Linked DNA regions of Homo sapiens: region 1 is linked to region 2. Evidence: fine-mapped expression QTL. A gene starts in region 2. The other region holds a variant in brackets. All regions are shown on one strand. Distances are from middle to middle. Region 1 overlaps IL12RB1 (interleukin 12 receptor subunit beta 1). Region 2 holds the start of IL12RB1 (interleukin 12 receptor subunit beta 1).

Region 1 (4,419 bases), 27 kb after region 2:
GGGGGCAGTTTATGCAAAATTTCTTTCTTTTTTTTTTCTTTTTTGAGATGGAGTCTTACTCTGTTACCCAGGCTAGAGTGCAGTGGCACGATCTTGGCTTATTGCAACCTCCCCCTCCCGGGTTCAAGCCATTCTCCTGTCTCAGCCTCCCAAGTAGCTGGGACTACAGGTGCGTGCCATCACACCCAGCTATTTATTTTGTATTTTCAGTAGAGATAGGGTTTCACCATGTTGGCCAGGCTGGTCTTGAACTCCTGACCTCAGGTGATCCTATGCAGAAATTTCTAGGGAAGGGATAGTAACTTTTGGGTCCTTGGTCATTCCCATGGAAAGGGGCGGTGACACTGGTGGGCATGTCTGATTGAAAGCTGCTTTCAAGCCGGGCACGGTGGCTCACTCCTGTAATCCCAGCACTTTGGGAGGCTGAGGCAGGCAGATCGCTTTAGGCCAGGAGTTGGACACCAGCCTGGCCAACATGGCGAAACCTCTCTCTACCAAAACTACAAAAATTAGCCGGGTGTGGTGGCACACGTTTGTAATCTCAGCTACTCAGGAGGCTGAGTCAGGAGAATCGATTGAACCCAGGAGGCAGAGGTTGCAGTGAGCCGAGATCGCGCCACTGCACTCCAGCCTGGGCAACAGAGCAAGACTCCGTCTCCAAAAAAAAAAAAAACCTCAGCTCCTCTCACTGGTCCCCTTTCCTCCCCAGGGCCGCACGGCACCTGTGCCCGCCGCTGCCCACACCCTGTGCCAGCTCCGCCATTGAGTTCCCTGGAGGGAAGGAGGTAAGGATGCCTTTTCTAATTCCAAGTCTTTTTATTGGGTGCACATGCTGGACAAGGGTTACGCATTAGCTCATTTTATTCTCTCCCAATTCATCAAGGTAAGGACTCCAAAACCAGTGCTCCATACCCCTTCCCATTTTAAAGACAGGCAGGCAGAGGTCCATTTCCTGGCACTAGAAACAGAATTCAAAGTGGCTTTATTATAAAGGAAACCTGATGGAAAAAATCCCAAGGGAATGGGCTTCAGATATGCCTGAATCCAGCGATTGGGGTCTATCTCGGAGCTGCCCGTTCAGGGTTCTTCCGCAGGCAGGCTGAGCCTTCTCTGATTGGAAGCAGGGTGTCCATTTTCCCCATTAACTGGGGCAAAAGTCTCAGGGCCATCACTGATTGGTCCAGCTTGGGTCACATGCCCTTCCCTGAGCCTATGGCTAGAACCAGAGGGGTAGGGAAGGGTCTGATGGGTGGGCTGGCCAGGGTCACATGACCATTGCTAGAGCTGAGGTGGGGTCACTGCACTGTCAACCACACCATCTGTGAAAAGAGGGAGGGAAATTTCCCAAAGACAGATGGGAGTGCTCTTCCTAAGAGGGGCTGAATGGGAGTCAGTGCGGCAGACTCCATCCTCAAATCGGTCTCAGGATATATGGAGTCTCGCTCTGTCACCCAGCCTGGAGTGCAGTGGCGCCATCTCGGCTCACTGCAACCTCTGATTCCCGGGTTCAAACGATTCTCCTGCTTCAGCCTCCCAAGTAGCTGGGATTACAGGCGTGCGCAACCAAGCTCAGCTAATTTTTGTATTTTTAGTAGAGATGGGGTTTGGCCATGTTCTCCAGGCTGGTCTCAAACTGCTGACCTCAAGTGATCCACCCGCCTCAGCCTCCCAAAGTGCTGGGATGACAGGTGTGAGCCACTGCACCCGTCCAGGTCTCAGGATGTTAGAGAATTTAACCAGCAGTGACCTGGTCCGTTCCATCCTGCTGTGGATGGGAAGTAGAGCTCTGCTCACAGCTGTGGCCCTACCCTCCCTCTGCAGACTTGGCAGTGGATCAACCCAGTGGACTTCCAGGAAGAGGCATCCCTGCAGGAGGCCCTGGTGGTAGAGATGTCCTGGGACAAAGGCGAGAGGACTGAGCCTCTCGAGAAGACAGAGCTACCTGAGGGTGCCCCTGAGCTGGCCCTGGATACAGAGTTGTCCTTGGAGGATGGAGACAGGTGCAAGGCCAAGGTCCTGGGGCCCAGTGGGCCAGACGGTCAGGGGTGCAACCCTGCCCGGGGGGTGGGGGGGCTAGACATCCATCGCTCCTGGGATATCAGGGCCTGGAGGCCTGAGGGAGAAACGAAAACATCCACTTTGTCTTACAGACACGAAGAGCGACTATCTCAATCACAACGGCTGGTTATTAAGCACTTATGGCATACCCAGCCCATTCCATCCACTCACATGATTCCCTACCAAATCCCTACAACCACCCCCTGAAAGGAACCATGACTGTTGTACTTTACAGATGTGATCGTTGAGGCTCAGAGAGGGTGAGTGACTCGCCCGAGGCTACGTAGCACACACAGGAGTCACATTTGGACCCAAATAACCCAGAGCTCCTCCAGGCTCCAGTGCACCTGCCTCCTCTCTGCCCCGTGCCTGTTGCCACCCATCCTGCGGGGG[A/GA]ACCCTAGATGCTGCCATGAAATGGAAGCTGCTGCACCCTGCTGGGCCTGGCATCCGTGGGGCAGGAGCAGACCCTGCCATTTACCTGTTCTGGCGTAGAATGGACTGGGAATGGGGGCAAGGGGGGCTCAGATGGATCCCTGGACCCTGGGCTGGGCATCCACCCCCAGGAGCACTGGATGGGGAGTCTGGACTCAAGGGCTCCCTGCAGCATTGCGGGGTCTTGTAGCTTGGAGGATCCAGGCATATAGGGAAGGGGGCTGTAAACTTTGTGGGAAAAATGACGGTCCTCCCATCCCACCCCCCACCCCACCCTCACCCCCCTATAAAATGGGGGTGGTGATAATGACCTTACACAGCTGTTCAAAATCATCGTAAATGAGCCTCCTCTTGGGTATTTTTTTCCTGTTTGAAGCTTGAATGTCCTGCTCAAAATCTCAAAACACGAGCCTTGGAATTCATTCATTCATTCATTCATTCATTCCACATATATTTATTAATCTCTTCCTCTAGGTCTCCTCCAGGAGCACCTAATCCGGGGGAGACAGAGCCGGATGAGAGCTTGGAACCCTACTAAGTTAGGACTGAGCAGGGGAAGGGACGGCCTAGGGGGAGTGGAGCAGCCGGGCACTCCGGTAACAGGAACCGTGGTTTGCCCCCACGCTCCTTCCTCCTCACGCCCACCAACTCGCAGCAGGACCCTTGCCCCCCTTACACACCCTGAATCCTCCCTCTTTCTGCCCACACTGCCCCACCTCCCTCGCGTTCTGCAGCCGCCTCCCCCTGATCCCCACTGCGGTCTGAGCCGAGGTGTGGGGGGGGGCTCCTGAAATCCCACCCCAGCCCTGGCGATTAGCGGGTAGTCCAGATTCTCCCCATGGCCACCAGGTGGCAACAGCGGCGCGCGTTTCCCCGGCCGGGCCCGCCCTGCCTCCTCCCACCGCGTTTGCTAAACAGACTTTTCCGGTTTCAGACAGAGGAGGGGAGTTAAAAAGCCCAGAACTACTGAATTTTGTGGCAAAAAAAGGATGAGACCTCTCGGGGAGAGACCCCTGGCAGCCAATAGGGCCAGGAGGCAAGAGGCCCAGGCCCCGCCCCTTTGGTCTGGGGGCCTCCCTTTCCCCATCGATGCATCTAGATAGGGAAACAGAGGCCTGGATCTCGGTGCCCCAGCCACACGGTGGCTGGTCAGAGTTCTGCAAATGCCCCCCGCCCCGCTCCGGATCTGCCACATCCCAGCTTCTGCTCAAGCCGTTCCCTCCACCAGGCATGCCCTCCCTTGAGCGTTTATCCTCCTTTCTTTTTTCTGAGACGGAGTTTGGCTCTTGTTGCTGGAGTGCAATGGCGCGATCTTGGCTCACGGCAACCTCCCGGGTTCAAGCGATTCTCCTGCCTCAGCCTCCCAAGTAGCTGGGATTACAGGCGCCCGCCACCCTGACCAGCTAAAATGTGTTTGTATTTTTAGTAGAAACAGGGTTTCACCATGTTGGCCAGGCTCGTCTTGAACTCCAGACCTCAAGTGATCCACCCGCCTCGGCCTCCCAAACTGCTGGGATTGCAGGTGTGAGCCCTGGAGGCCCCTGGAGTTGGCTGCAAACCCACCCCTATGCACAGTCCCTTGGGTGCGAGAAGTAGGAGACAGGCAATGTTTACTGGCAGCAGCTGGGACTTTTGCCAGAGTGCATGGGGAAGATGCACACCCTGCTTCCACTAGCGGGAGACTGAGCTGGACAGAGGGAAGCCTGGAGCTTGGAGCCTCTTTCCTTCCTACCGTGGGGATGCCTGTCTGAGAGAGGAGCCTGCAGGGAGGACAGCAGCACCGAGATGAAGCATTAGTTCCTGGATCCAGCCATACCTGAAACCCAATATTTTCCATCTGGTTCCTGTTTTTAAAAAATATTTTAGGCCGGGCATGGTGGCTCACGCCTGTAATCCCAGCACTTTGGGAGGCAGAGGCGGGCTGATCAC
Region 2 (4,000 bases):
TGGGTTTTTTTTTTTGTGTATGTGTGTTTTTTTTTTTTTGAGATGGAGTCTCACTCTGTCACCCAGGCTGGAGTGCAGTGGCACGATCTCAGCTCACTGCAACCTCTACCTCCCAGGTTCAAGTAATTCTCTCTGCCTCAGCCTCCCGAATAGCTGGAATTACAGGCACATGTCACCAGGCCTGGCAAATTTTTGTATTTTTAGTAGAGACAGGGTTTCGCCTTGTTGGCCAGGCTGGTCTCAAACTCCTGACCTCAGGTGATCCGCCCACCTCGGCCTCCCAAAGTGTTGGAATTACAGATGTGAACCACTGCACCCAGCCCAGCATTATGTTTTTGAGGGTTCATCCACATGGTAGCTTGGATCAGAGCTTCTCCACTGACATTTAGAGGCTTTGCCGACAGTGGGGAGGGAGGGGCAGGAAACAAAATACTCAGAGGCTAAGAAATGGAACATGGGGGAAAGACTAAGTTGCATCTCTTAAATTTTTTTTTTTTTTTTTTTAAGAGACAGGATCTTGCTCTGTTACCCAGACTGGAGTGCAGTGGCACAATCACGATTCACTGCAGCCTCAACCTCCTGGGTTCAAGCCATTCTCCCACCTCAGCCTCCTGAGTAGCTGAGAATACAGATGTGTGCCACCACGACTGGCTAACTTTTAATTTATATATATATATATATTTTGAGATGGAGTGTCACTCTGTTGCCCAGGCTGGAGTGCAGTGGCGCGATCTCGGCTCACTGCAACCTCCACCTCCTGGGTTCAAGCGATTCTCCTGCCTCAGCCTCCTCAGTAGCTGGGATTACAGGTGCCTGCCACCACACCCGGTTAATTTTTGTATTTTCAGTAGAGACAGGGTTTCACCATTTTGGTCAGGCTGGTCTCAAACTCCTGACCTCGTGATCCACCTGCCTTGGCCTCCCAAAGTACTGGGATTACAGGCGTGAGCCACCGCGCCTGGCCTAATTCTTTATTTTTTATAGAGATGGGGTCTTGCTATGTTGTTTAGGTAGACCCAAACTCCTGGGGTCAAGTGATCCTCCCACCTCGACCTCTCAAAGTGCTGGGATTAGAGGGGTGAGCCCAGGTGCACAAGGCTGGAGCTTGGCATGTGGGGAGGTGGGCATTGTGGAGGGCCAGCATGCTGCAAGCTCTTTGTAACAATTTGTTGGAAGGATGAAATTAGGCCATCCAAGAACACTGCCCTCCTTCAGCTCTTGAGTCTCAGATTCAGAAGCTGGCGAGATGGCCCGGTGCGGTGGCTCACGCCTGTGATCCCAGAATTTTGGTAGGCCAAGGCGGACGGATCATTTGAACCCGGGAGTTTGAGACCAGCCTGGGCAACATGGCAAAACCCCCTCTCTTAAAAAAAAAAAAATGCAAAAATTAGCTGGGCGTGGTGGTGCATGCCTGTAGTCCCAGTTCCTGGGGAGGCTGAGGTAGGAGGATGGCCTGAGCCTGGGGAGGTTGATGTTGCAGTGAGCCGTGATTGCACCACTGCACTACAGCTGGGCCACAGATCAAGACCCTATCTCAAAAGAAGAAAAAAAGAATTTGGCAGCCAGGCACGGTAGCTCACGCCTGTCATCCCAGCACTTTGGGAGGCTGAGGTGGGTGGATCACTTAGGGTTAGGAGTTCGAGACCAGCCTGGCCAGCATGGTGAAACCCTGTCTCTACTAAAAATACAAAAATTAGCTCGATGTTGTGGCAGTTGCCTGTAATTCCAGCTACTCGGGAGGCTGAGGCAGGAGAATTGCTTGAACCCGGGAGGCAGAAGTTGCAGTGAGTGGAGATCATGCCACCACACTCCAGCCCGGGCGACAGAGCAGGGCTCCATCTCAAAAAAAAAAAAAAAAATTGGCTAGAGAGGGCCAGAGACCTGGCCAAGTGCATGGAACCACAGGTGGCCCATGGGCCCATGGGGCTGGCATCTGGGTGTTCAGTTCAGGTCTGGGGCCAGCAGGGCAGAACCCCCTAGAACCCTGACTTGCTCCAAAGTCAGACTTGCTCCAGAGTCTGTGGCCGCCACCATCACCACCACCACGGAGCTGACTTCCTGGGTTTCTCTTTCACTTTGACTTGCCTTAGGGATGGGCTGTGACACTTTACTTTTTTTCTTTTTTCTTTTTTTTCAGTCTTTTCTCCTTGCTCAGCTTCAATGTGTTCCGGAGTGGGGACGGGGTGGCTGAACCTCGCAGGTGGCAGAGAGGCTCCCCTGGGGCTGTGGGGCTCTACGTGGATCCGATGGAGCCGCTGGTGACCTGGGTGGTCCCCCTCCTCTTCCTCTTCCTGCTGTCCAGGCAGGGCGGTGAGTCCCCTGACCCTGGCATGGCGGCTCCTCTTGCTGGGTGGAGGCACGTGTATGTGTGGAGAGCTGTGGGCCTGCTGTGTGGGTTGGTTTCATCTCTCTGTGCCTCAGTCTTTCCTGCTGTCAAATGGGAGATGGGCAGTCATGGCTTCTGGGATCGAACTTAGACATCTTTCCTCTGGTCTAGATTTTCTCTTCTGTGAAATGCACTAAATTTTTTCCACCTCCCGGAGTTCAATGAGAAAAAAAACTAAGGAAGGAATAAAAAGCAAGTATGTATCTAATAGGTATACATAGTATAGTATCTTATGTATGTAGTTTACAATAGATAGACATACATAATATAATGTATACAGTCATTTCCATATTTACGGGGCAATGGTTCCAGGACCCTCTGCAGATACCAAAATCCAAAGATGCTCAAGTTCCTGATATAAAATGGTAAAGTATTTGCATATAACCTATGCACATCCTTCCGTATACTTTACTTATTTATTTATTTATTTATTTATTTATTTATTTATTTATTTATTTACTGAGGTAGGGTCTCACTCTGTGTCCCAGGCTGGAGTGCAGTGGCCTAATCATAACTCATTGCAGCCTTGACCACCTGGGCTCAAGTGATCCTCCTGCCTTAGCCCCTTGAGTAGCTGGGACTGCAGGTGCACACTACCATGCCTGGTTAATTTTTTTGGTGTATACTTTTTACAGAGACAGCGTCTCGCTGTGTTGCCCAGGCTGGTCTCGAACTCCTGGGCTCAAATGATCCACTCACCTTGGCCTCCCAAAGTGCTCAGATTACAGGCATGAGCCACCATGCCCAGCCTTCCCATATACTTTTAATAATCTCAGGCCCTGCACGGTGACTCACTCCTGAAAATCCAGCACTATGGGAGGCCAAGATGGGTGGATCACTTGAGGTCAGGAGTTCGAGACCAGCCTGGCTAACATGGTGAAACCCCATCTCTACTAAAAATGCAAAAATTAGCCAGGCTTGATGATGGGCACCTGTACTCCCAGCTACTTAGGAGCTGAGGTGGGAGGATCGCTTGAACCCAGGAGGCAGAGGTTGCAGTGAGCCGAGATTGCAGCACTGCATTCCAGCCTGTGTGGCAGAGCAAGACTCTATCTCAATAATAATAATAATAAATAAACTTTCCTTCTCTGTACACTGGGGATCAGCGGGGTGCTGACTTTTTCAATGGCTCTTGAGATGCACTGAGTGCCTGTAGAATGCCCACAGCAGTGCTGGCCACACCTCAAGGTCCCAGCGCCTTCAGGGGCCAGGCATGGCTGGAGACCAGCAGCAGGGAGGGGGCGAGAGGCAGCCCACGAGGTATCCTGGAGATAGTGGCAGTGAGTGGTCAGTCCAGGGAAAGGGAAGGAGGATGGGCTTTAGGCTCTCAGGGGTGGGTGGGTGGGTGGGGGTTCTGTGTCATCACAGAGAGAGATGGAAGGATGGAGAGCCTTGTGTGTTAAGCATCTTTCCCCCCTCAAGGTTGGACACTTGGGGCTGTTTCCTGGGGTGCCGCCTTCTCCCCCAAGGCTTCCAATCTGCCTGCAGGGCTCAGGACAGGTCCTTCTTGTGGGAGTGAGGGCGCCGGGGTCTTCCTGACCCATCCATGGTGGCATCCCCCTCCTTCTCTCACCCAGTTCCACACCTAGCAGACTGTGGCAATCCCAAAGGGCA

The links. PIP is the estimated chance that this variant, and not a neighbour inherited with it, causes the effect.
Region 1: its variant is fine-mapped to the expression of IL12RB1 in whole blood (INTERVAL, PIP above 0.99).

What each region holds. Positions count from the first base shown.
Region 1 is chr19:18,057,488-18,061,906 of GRCh38, reverse strand. IL12RB1 (interleukin 12 receptor subunit beta 1) reads left to right here. Exons shown (of 17, transcript NM_005535.3): 15 at 710-785; 16 at 1,822-2,013; 17 at 2,294-2,912. The coding sequence ends at 2,299. Among named protein-coding and RNA genes, the nearest start is that of IL12RB1, 27 kb to the left of the region's middle. The variant A/GA (reference allele first, on the strand shown) is at 2,452.
Region 2 is chr19:18,085,070-18,089,069 of GRCh38, reverse strand. IL12RB1 (interleukin 12 receptor subunit beta 1) reads left to right here and starts at 2,136. Exons shown (of 17, transcript NM_005535.3): 1 at 2,136-2,310. The coding sequence starts at 2,247. RefSeq lists enhancers at 1,805-1,864, 1,875-2,224.